Linked DNA regions of Homo sapiens. The protein of the gene in region 2 interacts with the protein of the main gene of each other region in a pairwise test. Each region holds a gene or a part of one and is shown on either strand. Other genes may lie near its edges.

Evidence for each region.
Region 1: the proteins of EIF4E (region 2) and UBXN11 interact in binary tests that used the Homo sapiens proteins (3 or more experiments, as listed by UniProt).
Region 3: the proteins of EIF4E (region 2) and EMX2 interact in binary tests that used the Homo sapiens proteins (3 or more experiments, as listed by UniProt).

What each region holds. Positions count from the first base shown.
Region 1 is NC_000001.11:26,303,630-26,311,626, reverse strand, and holds the start of UBXN11 (UBX domain-containing protein 11), read left to right. Parts: upstream 1-4,990; 5' UTR 4,991-5,035; intron 5,036-7,997. UniProt on the Homo sapiens protein: May be involved in the reorganization of actin cytoskeleton mediated by RND1, RND2 and RND3. Promotes RHOA activation mediated by GNA12 and GNA13.
Region 2 is NC_000004.12:98,919,038-98,926,141, forward strand, and holds part of EIF4E (eukaryotic translation initiation factor 4E), read right to left. Parts: intron 1-7,104. UniProt on the Homo sapiens protein: Acts in the cytoplasm to initiate and regulate protein synthesis and is required in the nucleus for export of a subset of mRNAs from the nucleus to the cytoplasm which promotes processes such as RNA capping, processing and splicing.
Region 3 is NC_000010.11:117,538,716-117,545,745, reverse strand, and holds the start of EMX2 (homeobox protein EMX2), read right to left. Parts: upstream 3,001-7,030; 5' UTR 2,479-3,000; coding exon 2,073-2,478; intron 1,441-2,072; exon of another isoform or gene 1,370-1,440; intron 1,181-1,369; exon of another isoform or gene 678-1,180; intron 115-677; coding exon 1-114. UniProt on the Homo sapiens protein: Transcription factor, which in cooperation with EMX1, acts to generate the boundary between the roof and archipallium in the developing brain. May function in combination with OTX1/2 to specify cell fates in the developing central nervous system.

The DNA.
Region 1 (7,997 bases), on a different chromosome or scaffold from region 2:
TACTAAAAATACAAAAATTAGCTGGGCATGGTGGCACGTGCCTGTAATCTTAGCTACTCGGGAGGCTGAGGCAGAAGAGTCACTTGAACCCGGGAGGCAGAGTCTGCAGTGAGCCAAGATCGCGCCACTGCACTCCAACCTTGGCAACGAGTGTGAGACTCCATCTCAAAAAAAGAATAGAGACTTCCACCGGGCATGGTGGCTCATGCCTGTAATCCCAGCACTTTGGGAGGCTGAGGCGGGTGGATCATGAGGTCAGGAGTTCAAGACCAGCCTGGCCAACATGGTGAAACCCTGTCTTTACTAAAAAATACAAAAACATTAGCTGGGCATGGTGGTGGGCACCTGTAATCGCAGCTACTCGGGAGGCTGAGGCAGAGAATCGCTTGAACCTGGGAGCTGGAGTTTGCAGTGAGCTGAGATCACGTCACTGCACTCCAGCCTGGAAAACAGAGTGAGATTCTGTCTCAAAAAAAAAAAAAAAAAGAATAGAGACTTCCAGAACCATCTAGCCCCAGAGCTGGGGTCTACTTCCTCACCCTGCAGGTGGGAAACAGGTCCAGAAAGAGCCTTGTTCAAGACCTCCCTCCTCCCAGGCCAGGGCCTTTGCACCATCATCAGACTGAATATCCACCACTGGATGCGATCAAGATGAGGCTGGGCGACCCCATCTCAGAAGTCCAGAGGGAATCCTTCCAGCTTGGAAGTGGTCGGATGGGTCTCCAAGGCCCTCACAACACTCAAGTCTTGTGAGCCTGGAGACCTCAGAGATTTCCAGACCTTCTAAGATGTGGGAAGAGAAATATAGGTTAAAAAAAAAAAATCAGATGAGCTTAGACTCTTGGTTTCTTTTATAATTTTGTTTTTGAAAAAACACCTTTTTTTTTTTTTTTTTTTTTAAGACAGAGTCTGGCACTGTCGCCCAGGCTGGAGTGCAGTGGCGCAATCTTGGCTCACTGCAACCTCAGCCTCCCAGGTTCAAGCAATTCTCCTGCCTTAGCCTCCCGAGTAGCTGGGATTACAGGCGACCGCCACCATGCCCTGCTAATTTTTGTATTTCTTTCTTTTCTTTCTTTCTTTTTTTTTTTGAGATGGAGTCTTGCTCTTGTTGCCCAGGCTGGAGTGCAGTGATGCGACCTTGGCTCACTGTAACCTCCGACTGCTGGGTTCAAGTGATTCTCCTGCTTTAGCCTCCAAAGTAGCTGGGATTATAGGCGCATGCCACCACACCTGGCTGATTTTTGTATTTTTAGTAGAGATGGGGTTTCACCATGTTGGCCAGGCTGGTCTCAAACTCCTGACCTTAGGTGATCCACCCACCTCAGCCTCCCAAAGTGCTGGGATTACAGGCATGAGCCACTGCTCCTGGCCTAGTTTTTGTATTTTTTAGTAGAGACAGGGTTTCGTCATGTTGGCCAGGCTGGTCTCGAACTCCTGATCTCAGGTGATTCACCCACCTCGGCCTCCCAAAATGTTGGGATTACAGGTGTGAACCACTGTGCCCAGCCAAAAACTCCTCCTTTTTGGGCCGGGCACAGTGGCAAGAGGGTATAGTCTCTGCTACTTGGTAGGCTGAGAGGCCGAGACTGGAGGATCCCTTGAGCTCAGGAGTTCAAATCCAACCTGGGCAACATAGACAGAGTCTGTCTCTAAAAATAAATAAATGAGCAAAGAAAGAAAAGAAGAACACCTTTTCAGGAGCAATAATGCAACAACATTATAGGAATTTTTAAAATAGTGTATATATTTTTTTCAGCTGTTGTCCCCACTCATGCTGGGGCCGGTGCCTCATTATGGAAAATTTAATTTGTACAATAATCCTAGGAGGTAGATTCTATTAGTATCTCTACTTTACATTTGTAGACACTGAGACTCTGACAAGTGAAGTATCTTGAGCAGGAACAGCCAGCTATTAAACGACAGAGCCCAGCCTCATAGAGTTGTTAAGTTATGCTGGTCCACAGTACAATGTATCCCCAACAAATGATGGCTCTTATTATTTTCCAAGTTTCTCCAGTGAAATTGTATATTTTTATAATAAGGCTCTGACTTTCCCAATAAATGTTATTTTTTTAAAAAAAATCAAACCAGAAGGGCACGGTGGCTCACACCTGTAATCCCAGCACTTTGGGAGGCTGAGGCGGGTAGATCATGAGGTCAGGAGATAGAGACCATCCTGGCCAGCATGGTGAAACCCCATCTCTACTAAAAATACAAAAATTAGCTGGGGGTGGTGGCACTTGCCTGTAATCCCAGCTACTCAGAGGCTGAGGCAGGAGAATTGCTCGAACCAGAGAGTTGGAGATTGCAGTGAGCTGAGATCACACCACTGCACTCCAGCCTGGCGACAGAGTGAGACTCTGTCTCAAAAAAAAAAAAAATCAATTGACTCGGGACAGGGCGCAGTGGCTCACGCCTGTAATCCCAGCACTTTGGGAGGCTGAGGTGGGCGGATCACAAGGTCAGGAGACGGAGACCACACTGGCCAACATCGTGAAACCCCGTCTCTACTAAAAATACAAAAAAATTAGCTGGGCATGGTGGCGTGTGCCTGTAGTCCCAGCTACTTGGGAGGCTGAGGCTGGAGAATCGCTTGAATCTGGGAGGTGGAGGTTGTGGCGAGCCACGATCGTGCCACTGCACTCCAGCCTGGTGACAGAGCAAGACTCAAAAAAAAAAAAAAAAAAAAAATCAAACGACTGGCCTGCCAGGTTAGAGGGCTCCCATTTTCCTCCCAGGAAATAGATGTTTACTGAGTGTCTGCCTGCTGCGGAATCTACAGCCAGGCCCTGGGTGGGAAGAAGGGATGGGGTAAATCCTGGTGCCTGGGTAAATGCCACTCACGATCTGGTTCTTGCTGAGGCAGGAATCAGAGGGCAGACCACAGCAGGGCTCATGAGACCAGAGCTCCTGCTTCCCACGCTTGCTTATCTCCATGAGCAAGGTGACAGTATGAAGTTGCTACTCACCCTGACCATGGGTCCAACCTCAAAAAACACTTGGCCCCGACATGATCTCAGTCTTTCTCATCTTCATATACCTAAAACCTCAGAAAACTTTCTGGGAGCAGCTCAGCAACAAGAGAGCTCTTCCTATGTCCACTCTCCAGTCACACTTTCCGCCCAGACTCCTCCCTTGGCAGTAGGTCTGTACCACCTTCTTCCTTGGCTTATCTATGCCTGCCTTGTTTACCAGAGTGAAAGTTTCTAGGAAGAGCGTGGACTCTTGAGGCTGACCGTTCTGGGTTTGAATCCACTTCTGCTTCCTGCCTTTATAATCTTATGCAAGCCGCTGTACTACCCTGAGCTTGTTTTCTCATCTGTTTTTTTCTTTTTTCTTTTCTTTTCTTTTTTTTTTTTTTGACAGAGTTTCACTCTTGTTGCCCAGGCTGGAGTGCAATGGTGCGATCTCAGCTCACCGCAACCTCCGCCTCCCAGGTTCAAGCGATTCTCCTGCCTCAGCCTTCCTGAGTAGCTGGGATTACAGGCATGCGCCATCATGCCCGGCTGATTTTGTATTTTTAGTAGAGACGGGGTTTCTCCATGTTGGTCAGGCTGGTCTCGAACTCCCGACTTCAGATGATCCGCCTGCCTCAGCCTCCCAAAATGCTGGGATTACAGGCGTGAACCACCACGCCCGGCCCTCATCTGTAAATTTCATGTTACCATCTGGTACTTGGCACTCAGTAGTAGTAGCTCTCTTTAGCTTCCAATTTGCATATAAAGAATGCTGTCCACTTTGGGAGGCAGAGATGGGCGGATGGCTTGAGCTCAGGAGTTTGAGACCAGGCTGGGCAACATGGCAAGACCCCGTCTCTACAAGAAAATACAAAAACTAGCTGGGCGTTGTTGTGCACACCTGTAGTCCCAGCTACACTGGTGGCTGTGATGGGAGGATAGCTTGAGCCTGGGAGGCGGATGTTGCAGTGAGCAGAGCCTACCCTTCCCTGAATGTGGTAGGCTAGAAAGTCAAACGGAAAATTAAAAAAAAAAAAAAAAAAAAGCAACAGAAAAACACTCTTGGGTTGTGCAGAGAAAGGGCTTTTGAACCTGGGCACAAAGAAGTGAGTGCCTGAGATCAGAAATCATAAACTCCCAGACCATCACAGCTGAAAGGGTGAAGAGATGATGATGATGATTAACAGCAGGAAACGTTTTTGAAAAAGTGCTCTCTACAGGTGTTTCTGTTTCGGCTTTCCCCTTTAAAATCGTGTACTTTGCATTACCTTATTTAATCCTCACGGCAACCCAGTGGGGGTAGGTATTATCACTGTTTTACAGATATAAAAACTAAGGTGTATAAAGTGCCCAAGAACACACAGTAAGGAGCCAGGACTCCTAATTCCAAAGTTCGTGGTCTTAACTGCCTTTAGCTGTTTTGGTGACTGAGTCTAATCCAACACAATTTTACAGATGAGGCTCTGGGAGGGGAAATTGTCTTACCCAACTCTTAACACAAGGGAACTAGAATTTGGGCCGCCCTTCCGGGCGCCAATCTGGTCAAGGATTTGTCACAGAAACTCAGATTTAGGAAACATTTATTAAGTACTTGCATCATTGCAATCCATCCTCAAAGCAGCCTCCGTGAAGTATTACAGTACTTCGTGTTACAATACTGATCATATGGGGAAATAAGCTAAGAGGGATAATTCCTCCCAAGATCAATTTAGCAAAATAGCGGCACTGTCGGGATCACACATTCAGGTCCTGAATGTGAGGCTGCCAGCAGTTTCATTAACCTAATCCCAGGCTCCTTCCTCCCGCACCTGAGGGTAGGAACGAACCACCCCCCCCCCCCACCCCGCCCCGGACCTGGAGCCCTCTCAGAGCGGTGCATTCTGGGATTCGCCCGCGAAGAATACCGACTCTGTGGGCCAATAGAATCCGAGCACAGGCGACTGTATCCACCTTCGCTGTCTGCAGGTTGCTCAGGCCTCCCTCAAACTAGCCAATGAGAAGTGCACGGGTCCTGGTCGCCTAGGAAACCGCGTGACAACAAGATGGCGGCGCTGCGGGACGGCTAGCGGCCCTGCGTGGTGAGTCTGGCTTAAGACCTTTCTGCCCCTGGAGTCCCCACGCAGGCTGGAGCCCGAGCCCCGAGGGCCTGCGAGCTCCGCGGCTCCCACAGGAGAGGTTCAAGACCCTGCTTACCATGACTACGCGTGGAGGCGGAAGGAGGCGACACGGCCTCCAGGGCTGGGTTAGATCGTGATAGACGTCGCTCCCTGAGCGCGTCCTGGGGGCATTAGGGAGTCCTGGCAGCGGGCCGGACCGTGTCCCCGCCAGAGCTCTGGGCTCTGGGGATGACGGAGAGGCCGAGGAGGTGTGAAGAAGAATGTTGTGAGTCAAGCACAGCACTGAGTTTGGTTCCAAAGATGTAGAGGCATGGTGCAGAGATTTGCTCTCAGAGCCAGGTCTGAAGTGGGTGACAACTCTGCCTTAAGGACCTTTTGGCCTGAGGGGTAGTCACAGTCCTGCCCTTGGAAGCCCCAAAGTGAAGGAGTTAGGCGACTGTCCTCAGGGCTCCCTAATCTGAAGGAGAAAGAGATATGCCCCTGCCCTCAGGAGTCCCCCCAAACGGACAGGGAAATGCAGCCTTTGCCTTCAGGGGCCCTTGTAATCTGGGAGAAGATTAACCTGGAGACAATGTGTCGGACTGGACTGGAGTGACACTGGAAGTAGGGAAGTCAGTTGGGAGCCATGTGACAGCCCCCAGAATGGGCAGTGAGAGTCCCACTAGGACGGCCGACGGTGGCCATGGAAAGGGGCAGCTATATGTGAGAGAGTTTAGCCTGCAGGGTTTGATGTAAGAGGCAAGATGGCGTAAGAGGGAAGGAAGGAGAGAAAAAATGTGGTTGGGTGATGGGGTCCCATTAAGAAGGGGGAAGTGGGAGGAAGTGAGTTTGACGAAAATGTTGGATTTGGTTTAGGAGTTTTGTTTTTTTTTCCCATGACAGCTTTATTGAGATATAATTCACGTATTACATACTTCACTCCTTTAAAGTGTAAATTTCAATTTTTAGTATATTTTAGTATATATTCCATTTATATGAAATGTGCAGTGTGGGCAAGTCTATAGAACAGAAAGTAGATTTGTGGTTGCCTAAGGCTGCCTTGGAAAAGGGGTGGGGGCTGGAGGGTAAATTGGGGGTGACTGCCAAAGGGTACAGGGTTTGTTTAGGCTGACGAAAATGTTCTAAAATTGTGATGGTAGTACAGCTCTGTGAATATACTAAAAAGAAAATTACACTGTAAGAAGGTGAAATATGTGAATTATATCTCAAAGCTGTTTTATGAAAAAGGTTGCATACTGTATAATTCCATTTGTGTAACTTTTTTGAAGTAAGAAAATTATAGAGATGGGCCAGGTGGGGTGGCTCACGCCGGTAATCCTAGCACTTTGGGAGGCTGAGGCAGGAGAATTGCTTGAACCTGGGAGGCGGAGGTTGCAGTGAGCCGAGATTGCGCCATTGCTCTCCAGCCTGGGCGACAGAGCGAGACTCCATCTCAAAAAACAAAACAAAAAAAGTATTGAGGGGAGCTGGGTGAAGGATACAAAGGATCTTTCTGTACTATTTTCCTAATTTCCTGTGAATCTATAATAATTTTCAAATAAAAAGCTAAAATATAAGTGAAAAACAAACTGAAGGGGAAAAAAAAGAGTTAGCTGGCCAAGGGAAGGGTGCAGGTAGGAGTGGGGAGACCGTTCTGGGAGTGGGGGGATTGAGGTTGAGGCAGGGGGGATACACATGCATTTGAGGCATTGCTAGAAGTTGAGGTGGCTCAAGTGTGGGAGGCGGCAAGATGGGAGATGAGGTCAGGAGACATAAGCAGGGACCAGGTCACCTATATCAAGGAATTATGAATTTTTTTTTGAGATGGAGTCTTGCTCTGTCACCCAGGCTGGAGTGCAATGGCGCAATCTCTGCTCACTGCAACCTCCGCCTCCTGGGTTCAAGCAATTCTTCTGCCTCGGCCTCCCAAGTAGCTGGGATTACAGGTGCCTGCCACCAAGCCCGGCTAATTTTTGTATTTTTAGTAGAGATGGGGTTTTGCCACGTTGGTCAGGCTGGTCTTGAACTCCTGACCTTAGGTGATCCACCCTCCTCGGCCTCCCAAAGTGTTGGGATTATAGGTGTAAGCCACCGTGCCTGGCCAGAATTTTGAATTTTTTTCTGTGGGTGAGAAGTGCTGGGATTATAGGCATGAGCCACCGCTCCCGGCCTGCTTTATGTTTTAAGATCTCTCTGGTAGCACATGGGAACTAATGAAGGGAGCCTTGGCCATACAACCCGTGAGGCTGCCCAGACAGGGCAGGGGCTGGGGCAGGGTGGGGACAGATTTGGGAGGCTGGATGCTGGGGGTGAAGAAACTCTGGGCCTGATCCTTGAGGAGGGCTCCTTCCAAGGAAGGGGCAGGGCATGATTCTCAAACTCTGCAGTGAAGGCATTGGAGGCTGCCTCCAGGCAGCATAGATTCCCTTGCTGACTGACTTCAGAAGTAGGGTTGAGGCCAGAACCAGACATCTTCAAAGTGGAACTTCTTGGATTTGTCCTAAAAAATTTGGTCCAGGCTGGGTGCAGTGGCTCATGCCTGTAATCCCAGCACTTTGGGAGGTCGAGGGGGGCGGATCACCTGAGGTCATTTACTGAATAGAGTAGTAGCCTTCGATTATGTCCTTCAGGTGCACTCCTTTTTCCAGAAGGAAGAGGAAAGGAAAGGAAACTAACATTTACGAGTGCTTCCTATGTGGCAGCAACAGCAAAAACAACAGCAGCCCCAACTCACATTTTTCAGTGCTTCCTTTGAGCTTGGCGCTGGGCTAGACCTTCTCTGTTATCTCTGAATCTGCTCAGAACCCTGCCTGTGCCAGTACTATTACGACCCCCATTTTATACTAAAAGAAACTGAGGGTGGGTTACTCCAGTGAGTGGCAAAACCTGGCATCTTAACCTTGGTGTCACATGGACTGTGTCTTTTTTTTTTTTTTTTTTTTTG
Region 2 (7,104 bases):
GTGGCTCATGCCTGTAATCCCAGCACTTTGGGAGGCTGAGGCAGGCAGATCATGAGGTCAAGAGATCAAGACCATCCTAGCCAACGTGGTGAAATGCTGTCTCTACTAAAAACACAAAAATTAGTTGGCAGTGGTGGCGCACACCTGTAGTCCCAGCTACTCAGGAGGCTGAGGCAGGAGTCACCTGAACCCGGGAGGTGGATGTTGCAGTGACCCGAGATCGTGCCACTGCACTCCAGCCTGACAACAGAGTGAGACACCATCTCAAAACAAAAACAGAAACAAAAAGACTAGCAAAAAAAAAAAAAACAAAAAAAAACATTAACCCACAGAAAAATTCTAATTCTATACAAGAGTAAATAACTATCTTTCAAAGTTTAAAATACAGAGCGACAAGCTTTTCTAGGATAGAATCATGTATCTAACCAAACTGGACATATCCAGTTATACCTTATAAAGTTGAACTAAATACAATATGTATACATACATTTGCACACACCAGAATTTCTAGATTCTTTTTCTTTTTTTTTTTTTTTTTTGAGATGGAGTCTTGCTCTATCACCCAGGCTGGCGTGCAGTGGTGCAGTCTTGGCTCACTGCAACCTCCGCCTCCCAGGTTCAAGTGATTCTCCTGTCTCAGCCTCCCGAGTAGCTGGGACTACAGGCACGTGCCACCACACCCAGCTAATTTTTGTATTTTTAGTAGAGATGGGGTTTCACCATGTTGGCCAGGCTGGTCTCCAACTCCTGACCTCAAGTGCTCCACCTGCCACAGCCTCCCCAAGTGCTGGGATTACAGGCGTGAGCCACCATGCCCGGCCAGAATTTCTAGCTTCTGAGGCCATACTGCACAATTAGGTAGCCATTACCTACATGTGGTTAATTATTAATATTAAATAAAGTTTAAAATTTATTTCCTTGGTTGCACAAGCCACAATATCCAAATGCTCAATTACCATGTACAGCCAGTGGCTACTGTATTGGACAGTAAAAAATACCCTTTCCATTATCTCAGAAAGTTCTCCTGGACAGACTTTTTCTAGTAGAATCCTCAAAAAATTGTAATTGGGCAATTTGGAAAGGGGAATGAGGTGGTTGGGGAAGATAGGCAGGAGATAGGTTTTCCACATTAGACAGAACTTAGCCTGTGCCAGATAATGTCCTTAATATGACTCATGCTAATTCAATCCTTGTTGTACTTCAGTATAAATTGGTTTCCTTTGTAAACCTATGCATTTTATGTAATACATGTTAAAACATTCTTTTTTCTTTTTTTTTTTTGAGACGGAGTTTCACTCTTGTTGCCCAGGCTGGATGCAATGGCACCATCTCGGCTCACTGCAACCTCCACCTCCCAGGTTCAAGCAATTCTCTTGCCTCAGCCTTAGCTGGGACTACAGGCACCCATGAACACGCTCGGCTAATTTTTGTATTTTTAGTAAAGATAAGGTTTCACCATTTTGGCCAGGCTGGTCTCGAACTCCTGATCTCAGGTGATTCGCCCATCTCAGCCTCCCAAAGTGCTGGGATTACAAGCATGAACCACTGTGCCTGGCCTGCATTTTAAAACACTCTAAGATAGGGGCTATAGGCTTTACCAAATTGCTATTTTGGACCATGAGTATGTAACTAAGTCAAAGAAAAAAAACAAAAAATAAAGAAAAGCTAAATACCATGATGTATAAACCAACATCCAAAACAGATTTTACAATCCACAACATGGTAACAAAGTATACAAGTTCAAATGAAAAAAATTTAACCCTCCTAATCCCACCATCCATAAACCATCTGGCATATTCTTTCAGTTAGAATTTTACACTTATTTGTGTACCTACGCATCAGTATCAACCCTAACATACAAGTTTTACTGAAGGATGGACTTTAGTTTTGGTTGAATTTGTTCCTCTTTTTACACAAGATAGTAATAAAGCTTGACACTCAGGTTTGAGTTCTCTCTCACTTATGTTAATTATGAGTTCTATAAAAATAACTTGCCTTGCTAAAAATTAAAAAAAAATTTTATATTCAAGTGCTATTCCTTTTGCGGCACCAAAACTTTGTATGTAACACTTAAGGAACTATGTGACCGTGGTAGAAAGTTAAAAATCACTTGAAATATGAATTCCTCACCTATAAAGTATTCATTTATTCATCAGAAAAAGAACTATAAGAAAAAATATACATTTCACATATCAATTAAAATATCAAACTTTCTTGCCTTAGTTAATACTTCTGACCAGATTTTGTGCCAACATAGGCTTACTGCCCCATAAGAAGTTTCACGGCAATACTAATATGTTGACATATATATGTAGACATATATATCAAAATTAGTTACAATATTTTTTTCTGTGCTCTGCTCATTACAATGACAGTAATGGAGTGCAATGTCATCATCTCGGCTCACTGCAACCTCCACCTCCCAGGTTGAAGCAATTCTCTTGCTTCAGTCTCCCAAGTAGCTAGGACTACAGGCACCCGTGACCACGCTTGGCTAATTTTTGTATTTTTAGTAGAGATTACAATGACAGTAATGAGCAGAGCACAGAAAAAAATATTACAACTAATTTCTGTATAGCATTTTGTAGTAACAAGCTTAAAATACACCAAGAAACACGTATGTGTACATTTTAGCTTAAACTTTTTCAAAACAACTGTTTTACCCTTTGCCAGACTTATCACCAAAATTACTAAAAGTACTAAGGTAGTTAAGTCTAGAATAAATCCAAAATTCACAAACTTTTAAAAATGTACTAAAACTTTTTTCACTAGCAAAATATTTTAACTGGGAAATCATACGAACTAGCAAATGCCAGAAATCAAATTAGAAAGGGGGAGAAGGTTAAGTGTCCATCCACTTTCTTTAGAAATCCACAAAGTTCTCAATTAGTTACTAAAACACGATTGGTGTAATTGCTTGGTTTAGTCCTCAAGATTATATATTTTTGTTATCTAACATTGTAATATAACAGGGCCTAAAAATAAATGCCCACACGTTTTATTTTATAGCTGTAGCAAAACACATAGTAAGCTTATCAAAACACATCTCCCCTTCTGAAGTCACCCAAGCAAAGCACATTACATGCCTACTTGAAAGAGTGCAACGGTTAAGAATATACACTCTGCACTTTGGCTGCTTTAATTTAAACTCCACCCCACCACTTAATAGCTGTGTGATTTTGGAGCAAGTTAGTCACACAATGTTACTTCATCTGTACTGTTAAGAATTAAATGAGTTAGCCTGGCGCGGTGGCTCACGCCTGTAATCCCAGCACTTTGGGAGGCTGAGGTGGGCGGATCACGAGGTCAGGAGTTCGAGACCAGCCTGGCCAATATGGTGAAACCCCATCTCTACTATAAATACAAAAATTAGCCGGGCGTGGTGGCACGTGCCTGTAGTCCCAGCTACTCAGGAGGCTGAAGCAGGAGAATCACTTGAACCCAGGAGGCGGAGGTTGCAGTGAGCCGAGATCGCGCCACTGTACTCTAGCTGGGACAACAGTGAGACGCTGTCTCAAAAAAAAAAAAAAAAGAAATAAATGAGTTAATATATGTAAAGCATTCAGTGTGGTACTTAACATAGAATAAGTGCTATGTGTAGCAATTACAAATAACGATCTTTCTACATTAAAAATAGCTGTTACAAACAAGGTATGTTTATAAGGTTTTTTTAGTTAGTTGCTTACAACTATAAATCCATATCCTTAATTCCATATCCCTATAAATCCAATGCTGGTTAGATTTGTAATGATTCCACAAAAATTTACTGAATATAGTGTGACTAAACTTCATTTTCCTGTTTTTTCTTTTTTCTTTTTTTTTTTTTTTGAGAAGGAGTTTCAGTCTTGTTGCCCAGGCTGGAGTGCGATGGCAGACATAGGCTCACCGCAACCTCCACCTCCCAGGTTCAAACGATTCTTCTGCCTCAGCCTCCCAAGAAGCTGGGGTTACAGGCATGTGCCACCATACCCAGCTAATTTTGTAATTTTGTTAAGTAGAGACAGGGTTTCTCCATGCTGGTCAGGCTGGTCTCGAACTCCCGACCTCAGGTGATCCGCCCACCTCAGCCTCCCAAAGTGTCGGGATTACAGGCGTGAGCCACCACGCCCGGCCCATTTTCCTACTGTTTCTATGGAATAATGTATCAAAAGTTCCAACTGGGGAAACAAAAAAAAAAAAACCCCTTATATTTCTGACCACATTCTCAGGTTCCAGAAGTGCCCAGAAATGACTATTAGTATTTTAGACACACACACACACACGCAAAATCATTTTCTTTTTCTTTTTTTTTTTGGTGAGATAGGGTCTCTTTCTGTCACCCAGGCTGGAATGCAGTGGTGTGATCACAGCTCACTGCAGCTCTGACCTCCCAGGCTCAGGGGATCCTCCCATTTCAGCCTCCTGAGGCTAGGACACAGGTGTGCACCACCATATTCAGCTAATTTTTTAATTTTTTGGAGAGACAGGGTCTCGCCATGTTGGCCAGGCTGGTCTCAAACTCCGGGCTCAAGTGATCCTCCTGCCTTTGTCTCCCAAAGCCTCGGATTACATGTGTGGGCCACCAAGCCCAGCCCCTTTCTTTTTCTGGAGACATGATTAGGGACTTTTGAAGGAACACTAGTGATTTTTATGGTAGGGATAGGAGTGGGAAGAACATCTTAGGATTGTGAATCACAGGCTTTGCATTTCTTGCTAATGGCTAAGGATTGATAATTAAAAAGCAGCAATGTGAATTTCCAAGAAAAGAGGGAAAATAGTATGTAAATGCATGGATATACATGAGTATAAAACATTCATGGAATGTCAACTTTAGTCCCTTACAGTTGACAAACTGTCACCTTTGAATACTGCATTTAAAAATTGAAATCACCGTAATATATCTTATTCCGACTTTCAGCTGACTTAGAAATTTCAGTCTTCAAGATCACTCAGATATTAAGATGAGACTATAACCCATGCTCATTTCCACTTCTCAAAAAAGTCTCTATGACTAAGATGGTGCAACTCACCGGTACTAATAGATTAAGGAAACTTCTTTTGTTTATTTTTTTTTTTTTTGAGACGGAGTCTCGCTCTGTCACCCAGGTTGGAGTGCAGTGGCACAATCTCAGCTCACTACAACCTCCGCCTCCCAGGTTCAAGAGCTTCTCCTGCCTCAGCCTCCTGAGTACCTTGGGATTACAAGCACGCATCACCACGCCCAGCTAAGTTTTGTATTTTTAGTAGAGGTGGGGTTTCACCATGTTGATCAGGCTGGTCTCAAACTACTGACCTGGTGATCTACCCACCTCGGCCTCCCAAAGTGCTGGGATTACAGGCATGAGCCACCGCACCCGGCCCATATTCTTAACTTTATGTAAATTAAACAATATTTTACTTAAATGTTTTTTGCCTACAGTTTTCTGTCCAAACTAGAGTAAGCTTACATAATTCATTTTGCATATTATCCCTCTGCAACTTCTGTGTATAAACTGTGTGTCTACATTGAATTTCTCTAAGTCTAATAATCATGCTCATTAACTCAGATTATAAAATGAAGTGTGAAATTTGTTTCTGTTTTTTTTTTTATTCTTTTTGATGGAGTCTTGCTCTGTCGCCCAGGCTGAAGTACAGTGGTACCATCTCGGTTCACTGCAACCTCCACCTCCAGGTTCAAGCGATTCTCCTGCCTTGGCCTCCCCAGTAGCTGGGATTACAGGCGCCTGCCACCAGGCCTGGCTAATTTTTGTATTTTTAGTAGAGACAGGGTTTCACCATTTTGGCCAGGCTGGTCTCGAACACCTGACCTCAAGTGATCCCCACCCGCCTCGGCCTCCCAAAGTGCTGAGATTACAGGCGTGAGCCACCGCACTCAGCAAGTATATTTTTTTCTTTTAATTGAAGAAATCTGGAATATGAACCCCAGAGCCAAATTTACGTGGATTATCGAGGAACTCTGATATAGTGGGTTCTTTCATTAAGCAAAAAGTCCACTAATTTGCATAGTCTGGTTGGCATTCAATTGTTCATTAATATGAATTATATAGTACAACAAATATTTGTCAATATGTATATAAACCTTATTTACTCTTATTAATAAGCTGTGTAGTACAGAGCATGTTTCCAAAGTATAAAAAAGGAAGCATTAAATTAGCTGATTGTCCAAGTTGATTCACTTATGAAATTAGCGTGGTTTCAAAAAATTCAAGAGCTACAATGTAAAAACAAGTAAAATTATACACTTTCAGTTAAGCTAAAGAAATCAAAATTAATCTCTTACCTCAAAAGGAACTACAAGTCAAAAAAAAATTTTTTTAATTCTAATAATGAACGATGTAGAATGAAGATAAAGCTACAAAGAAACACGACCTACTGGAGGTAAGATGGCCTTGCCATTTTCACAGACTAATATTAAACCTAATTTTGACCCAGCCACAATTCAAATGCCGATAGAATAACATCAGAGTACCGTTTGCCCTAACGTTCAAATTTTTGCCAAATTATCCGTTAAGAGGTAAAATGTTTCCCTTAATTTTCCCTTTCAAGCTTCTCAACAAATTTAATATTTGTGGGCCACATCTTCATGTAACTCAACTCATACAAAGAGAAAACCACACAATAATATCAAACTGAAAATGATATTTTATGTAATGTCCATAGACAAAAATCATCCAGATACCTATGCATGATGGGATAAGCAGGAAAAGCCCATGGCTCTTTTTAAGTGTTTATGATTATGCACAGCAGAAAACCATTATGGAAGCTCACAAACTAGCTGAAGTAAGAAAAAACATGATTTTTGCAGCCTTCAGCAGGGGTATCTCAAGTACAATCCAATTCTAATCAGTTGCTTCAAAAAAAAATCCAGGCGAGGCTCGGTGGCTCACGCCTGTAACCCAACATATTGAGAGGCCAAGGTGGGAGGACCACTTGAGTCCAGGAGTTTGAGACCAGCCTGGGTAACCATCGCGAGATTCCATCTCTACAAAAAGTTTAAAAATTATCCGGGCGTGGTGGCCTGCTCCTGTAGTGCTTGCTACACCAGAGGCTGAGATGGAAGCATCTCTTGAGCCCAGGAGTTTGAGGCTGCAGTGAGCTATGATCGCGCCACTGCACTCCAGCCCC
Region 3 (7,030 bases), on a different chromosome or scaffold from region 2:
CAAAGGCGTGTTCCAGCCTTAGAAGCTGGGACGGGGAGAAGGCGGTTCGGATCCGCTTGGGCTTTCGGGCCAGCGCGTTGTGCAAAAGGAAACTCTCGGGGCTAGTGTCGTTCCCTGCGGGGAGCACAGCAGAAATCCCATTAGGGGGGGCTGCTCTGACCGGAGCCGCGCACTTCTCCCGAGCCGGGCTGGCCCGGCACCGTGCTCAGGGCCTTCGCATAGCCGCGCCGCTCGACCTGCGGGGGCCGGTGGTCCTCCCAAGGGCTCACGAAGGGAACGCCTGCTCAGCTGCCCGGCCCGGAACGCCGGGTCTCCACCGGTGCGGCACCCAACCAGCCGCTGTCGCAGAGGAGCCAGTCCCCAGGCTCCTGACCTCGGCCGGCTCCGCAGCCGCCCTGGCGCCGCGGGCCTCGCCACCTCCTCGCCGGGCGCTGGAGGCAGGGGAGGGAGCCGCAGAGCCTGGCCAGGGGATTGGCGCCCACAACCCGAAGAAACTACTTTCTCTTCTTTCTAACCTCTCGGGGAACTTTGACCCACGGTGGAAAGGCGGCGGGCTGCTCTCCAGAGTTTTCATGGAGATTTATTTTTAAATTATTTGTTTTATTGCCCCTCCGGAAAAGTATAGAGGCGGGGCGAGTCGTTGAAGCCCGATCGGGACAGAAATCTGGCCGGCGGGTGTGCTTGGCTACAGCCGCTGCTGCCTCTCGCGAACTGGGCTCCGGGGCTCCCGGCTCCCGAGAACTAGAAGAGAAACGCGAGCGAAGGGATCGAAACCCGGGGGGTTACCGACTTGCAGACACCGCCAGGACAGTCTGTAACGCAGGAAGATCCCAGCGGCTCCGGGTCTGGTGAGGGGACCATAAGCATGACTGATAGCGAATGAGGAAGGGCAGCCCTAAACTTTTCAAGCAAAGCCTCAGAGTTTTGGGTTCACTCATTAGCATAGGAAATCGATTCACCGAAAACCCAAACAAAGAAAAACAAGCCGACAGTCCAGGCAGGATGCAGGCAAATCCAGTTCGGGATTAAGGGTAAAAGGCTTTTTGGGTTTTTTTTCCTTTGGTTTGATTTTTTAAAATATGGGGAGGGGGGTGACATCTACCCGATTCTAGGCTCCGGCAGGAACGCAATGGGTTAATGAATGGACAAGCCGCGGAGTATTGATCGGCTGCCGCCGGAGGTAGGTCTTTTACTGACTCCAATCCGTAAACTAATTACTCCTTTTTCTGAAGTTTTAACTCTCCTCCTCCCACCCCGTACCCAGAGAAAAACAAACAAATAAAAAATATCGCAAGAAATGAAAACACACGAACAGATATTTCCCTCTAAGACAGTTTCCTGACCAGGTTCTTTTTTTTTTTTTTTAAAGAAAGAAAGAAAAACAAAAACCAGACCGAACCTGCCTTCCCGCTGTGGCTGCTCGGCGCCCCAATTAAGCAGGTCGCGGCGAGAGCGCCAAGCCCTGGAGCTTTCCTCCCGCACGGGTTCCCGCCCCTCCCCAGGCCTCCGAAAAGCAGGAAAGAAAAAACAAATCCCATACTTTTCTCCCGGGGCGCGAGGATCCTCTCGCCTCCAGAAGAGGGTGGAAGACTAAGAAGCCGCGGGTCTGGACTGAAGGGGCGCAAAGTGGGTGGTGAACAGGGTCGAACGCAGTCGAAAGCAAGCCTGGCGGCCGAGTCCTGTCCGCGCCCCTCGGAGCCAGGACGGTTGGGGGCATTGCCGAGGGTACCAGGAGCCTGGGGATCCCGCGGGCTCTGGGCTCCGCGGCGCCGGGCACGCACAGCCCAGCCTGCTCTGATTCGAGCGCACTGGGGGACAACTTCTCCGTTCGCACCCCTTCCCAAAGGGTCAAGCGGCCCGCAGGCCATCACTCCAAACCAGTCGTAGCTTCGGAGACTGGGGATCGACACCACGCCCGGCCCCGCGCCGCCTAGTTTCCCAACAGGGCGCGCTGGCCCGCGAGCCGGAGGAACCTCCGCCCAGGCCTTGCCAAGCGCCCACCCGGAGCAGGCCGGGGGCAGTGAAGGATGCGGCGGGAGCGGCGCGCTGCAGTTCCGCGACGTGGCACGTACCTTGGAAGCGATGACCCAGATATCGGTAGCGGTGGATGAGCCAGGGGTAGAAGGTGGACGGATCCCGCTGCTGCGAGGCGAATAGGGGGTGTGGCGAGTGCGAGGAGGGTAGGGGGTGGGCGGCCAGGGCGTGCGGCGGCGGCACCGGGTGCACTGGCACGGCGGGGTTGGGCGGGTGCGAGACCGCCTCGGCGAACACCAAGTCCGGGTTGGAGTAGACGCCCCTACCGGCGGCGGCGGCGGCGGCCGAGTGGAAGCCGTTGAGGAACGGATTTATGGGGCTGGAGTTAGCGTAGCTGAGTGCCGCGGGACGGATGGGGTCCTCGGAGCGCGAGGCGGGCAGGGGACTGTCCTTGGCCACCAGCGACTCGATGGTGAAGCAGCGCTTGGGCGCCGGCTGGAACATGCTGCGCCGAGGAGCGGGCGCCCTGGGCTCCCAGCTCCTGGCGACCGCCGCACGCTGCCTCCGCCGCCCGCTGCCCGCGGCGAGGACGGACGAGAATTGGGGACTCGTTTGTTTGGGGTGGGGGTGGGGGTGGGGGGAAGGAAAGGAAGAAAGAAAGGAAAGGAAAGGAAAAAGGAAAGGAGGGGGGAGGGAGAGGGAGAGGCAAAGCCGAGGATCCCGAGAATCTTGCACCAAACGCGCCCAACCTGAAGAGAGGGGGGAAAATCCTTCCAGAAGAATTTGCAGGCGTGGATTGGGGTAATTTTTTTTCTTTTTTTTTCTTTTTTTTTCTTTTTTTTTTTTTTTTTTTTTTTTGGCGAGATGGCGTGGGGGGATCGGAGTTAGAGGCAGGGAGGAGAAGGGGGGAAAGTTCTCGGGGGAGGCAAAAAAAAAAAAAAGTTTTTTCTCCTCTGCAAAAGGCGGGCAGGGCGCCCTAAGTCCAAGGACAATCCATGGAAGTGTTCGCTTCTTCACAAGTTGTGCAAACGATTTGTTAGTTCATGAGCCTAATTAGTGCGGGGATCACATAAACAGCTTCCTCCGAAGCCTGGTAAATGGCTTGATGATTGGTCGCTATTACTCGCCCTGAGGTGGAAGGGGGGAGACTCTTTAAAGTGCGTCAGAGGGAGGTGAGCGCCTGGGAACCCGGAGGCCTGGATCCGGGCCGAGAGTGGAACGGAGTCGGCGCCGCCGCCTCGGCTGAGCCTTCTGCCGCCCACCGGGCGGCCGGGCTTCTCCGCGCCTTCGCCCCTCGCTCCCAGCTCACTCGCTCCTGCGGCGCCCGCTGCGGCTTCTCCTCCTCCTTCGCCTCCTCCTCTTCCTCCAGTTTCTTCTTCTCCTCCTCCTCCTCTTCTTCCTCCTCCTCCTCTTCTTCCTCCTCCTCTTTCCCCACCTACTCCCCCTCAGCCACCGCCTCCTCCTCCACCAGCACCACTCCCTCCGGGGCACCCCGGTCCCTGCAGAGTCCCTGGCCGGCGCCGCCTCCGCTGCGGCCCCCTGAATCCCGAGCCTGCCTCGCCCAAGCTGGTAGGACAGAAGGACAGACAGATTCCTCTAGCCTAGCGCTCCGCCGCTGCTGCCTTACGCGGCCCCGCGTCGGGAGAACTGGGATCGCCCCAAGAGCACCGCGAGGGTAAGCGGGCAGGGGCTGGTTCCCGGGCTAAAGGCGCCGTTCGGTTATACCAATCCCCACACTTAGCAAAACTCCCAGCGGTTTCCTAGGCCAGGAGGGATCCTGGAGTGAGGGGTACGGGGTCCTCCCACCCCATCAACCACGCTTAGCCTCGAGGTCCCAGGGTCGGTGCGTTCGCGATTCTTGACCCGGCTCGTTCGTTTGCGAGTTGAGACCGGGAGCTGCCGACCCCGCCGGAGCAGTGGGCTTCCAACTCTCTCCCTCTCTCGCCCCACGGTCTCTAGCGTTTTCTGTCTGGGAGGGTGCTCACCTCCTTCCCCAAAACAATTCCTTCTGGAATATCTGGGACCGGCAGTCCAAGGTCAGGGGAGAGCCCGATATGGTGCTACTGTACTATTAAGGTTCCGTCGTAATTATTTTTGTCAGTGTGGTCAATGTTATTATTATTATAGATGATATTATTTTATTATTATTATTTCTATTATTATTATTATGCCATCTGTTGTCCCGGGGTTGGTGGGGGGGTGGTGGTTGCTGTGCAAACCCAGTGCAACTAACGACTACGGATCGCATCTCCGGTCCCGGGCCGTGTCCGCATTTTCGAGCTCGCCTTCGGTTTTGGGATGATTTTAGGACCGAGTTCCCTCGTCCCCATTGGCTCGCGCGGCGGCATAATTATGATCACATCCCCAGGCTGCTGGCGCTGCTCTCTGTTTATTGGTGGTTAAAGATCTATTATCTATTCATCAGCCGCCTCTTTTTTCCTTTTTTTCCTTTTGCCAATTACATTCTTCTAAAGTGAAGTACCAGCAGGTATTTTGCACGTTTACAATTAATGATAAAAAAAAATTCTAGCGTCGTTTAAAACTATTACTCCCAGGCCCCTGTCATTTCTCCTAAGAACGCAGAATTGCCTGTGTTTGGTGACTAGGTTGCCGTGAAACCTGGGAAGCCGATGGCAATGGGAGGAGAAGAGTGAAGTCCACCGTGAGCCAGGCTGCACTGCCACCAGATGCATAGTTGAGGGGACAGGTCTCAGGACGAGCTACCTGCTTCCTCCCTTGGTTTCATCTGGTGTATATTTATGTTTGTGTCAATTACTCCTTTATTCCAGATATAATGTTGTGTTGGGGCAAGTGTCCAAAAACCTCTTTTGGGAAACCAGGCAAGAGAGGAGTTGGGAGCAGTGTTTTCCGGGGTTGTCAGGGCACCAGACAGATTCGTGAGGAACTGGCAGAGATCATCTTTGTTGCCCCCACCCCACACCTTCCCAGGGAACACACATACACATCTTCACAGATGAGACAGGTGTGCGCCTCAGCTTTGCCCTCACAGTGGGAGACACCTGCCTTTCCCTTAGGCTTCGAAGTTCTGGGCTGGGGTCCTAGCCCAGTATTGTCCCTCTGTCAGTTCCAGGTGGCTTTGCTTTCTCCTCCTCCCCTTTTTCCAGGCCCAAAGATTCTGGGCTTTGGATCCAGCCCTTGGGGTAGGGGTGCACTTAAAGATGCACCTCCCTTGGGCCTGGACCACTGTCCCCCAAAATATTGTCTACAGTTTGGAAATCCCTCTCTCAATTAGGCTGTGAGGTTACAGGCCTCTCCTCTAACCCCAGCTAGGCCAGCAGGGAGCCTGAAGACATGGCAGAGGGGGGAGGTCTTTTGGCTGTGCCCAGCCAGTAAGCTTAGGGTGGAGCTAGAGGTCCGCCCTCAGGTTTTTGAGGCTGGAAACAAACACTCAGCTTAGGCAGACTGTGCATCCTGAATCCTGGCAAGCAGGAGAGTGCACCTTTCATGCAAACTTCAGAAGGAGGACTGGAGGGCCAGATTCTGGCAGTGCCCTCAGGCCAGACCCTCCAAACTCAGCCTGAGACTCAGAGGTTGCAAACTGGAGCCACTGAAACTCCACCCTTAGTGATCTTGGATGGGGGCATAAAAGTCATTGACCTTTAGGGCAACAGGTATCCAGTCTGTCTGGGAGATTGGGTGAGACCCAGATGGTTTGTGATGTATAAGGGTGATGGGTGCCTTCCCTCTTTTAAAACTTGCAGCCCTGGGCGCTAAGGTGCAATCATTATTCCCTTAACCAGGACAGTGTTGGGCTGGAGATGGGACCCCTCAGCCTTCTGCCCCAGGCAGGGACATCTGGCTGCAGTAGAGGGGTAGAGTGCTCCACAGTCCCACTTCAGTCAGTCGGCATCCTCTGCAGGCTACCTGCCTTTTATAAACTGCCCTTCTGTGGCCAGGTTTGCCCCAGGGGCTCTAGCTAGCCAACACGTAGGCAGGGGTAAAGGGGCAGCAGGATCTGAGATCTGGTGTCCCCCTTCCTGAAGGAACCAGGATATGCTAGTTCCTCTGCTCCAAGTGCTGCTAGACCCGAGCTGCACTCCAGCCCCTTGAAGGAGAAGCAGGTTTCCAGTGAGTCGGGCAGTTCAGAACCCCAGAAGCTGGGTAATCTATGCTAATTCATGCATGGGTAATCTATGCTAATTCCCGGGGCCAGAAGGGCCCGGGAAGGTTCGCGGGGTCTGGCCCCGATGTGCAGGGAAATTAACTAGGATAGTAACTCATTAACCAGACTGGCCAGTGGAGTCGTGCCAGGGCACTGGGCACTGTGGTCTGGACTGGACCCTAAGCTCCTAGATGGCGCAGCTGCCCTGCCACTCAACTTTACTTGTGGATTTAGGCCTTGCAGAATACAGCCACCTTTGTTCCTTAGCTGCCCAAGGAGTGGGTGTTTGGTTAAGTAGCCCTGCGTGGAGTGGGAGATGTGGGGATTTCTGAGGCTCCAGCTTAGAGCAAGGGGCTTCCTCCCTCTGCCCCATGTGTGCCCCAAGCCACTGCTGCCTCTTGGGCTCTGTAGACTGAGGAATCTACCTTTCCAGGTAGCTGGACTAGCAGACACATTCAAACGTTCTAATTCCGAATCTGTCACTGAATGACCTTGGGCAACACAGAAACCTCCCCACCTCATTTTGTCATATGTAAAAATACAGCCAATGCTGTCTGGGAGGCAGTGGGGAGTAGCAGTGGGCTTGTTTTGGAGAAAGATAGAACTATCCTACTTCCTGATTGTGGTGGTATTTACATGACTCTATGTGTTTTTCAAAACTCACAGAACCATATACTACAAAGGGTGAGTTTTACTATATGTAATTATACTTTAATACACCTGCCCCCATCCCCCAAGATGAGAGACTTGCATTTACAGCTTAACTGTGTGACCTTGGGCAAGTTACCTAACTTCTCTGTGCCTCGGTTTTCTCTTCTCTGAAATGGGAATAAATAATATAGTACCTTTGCTCTGGGTTTGTTCAATGAGATAAACAAAGTAAAGTGCTTAGACAGTGTCTGGCACATAATGAACTACAATAAAAGTTTGCTC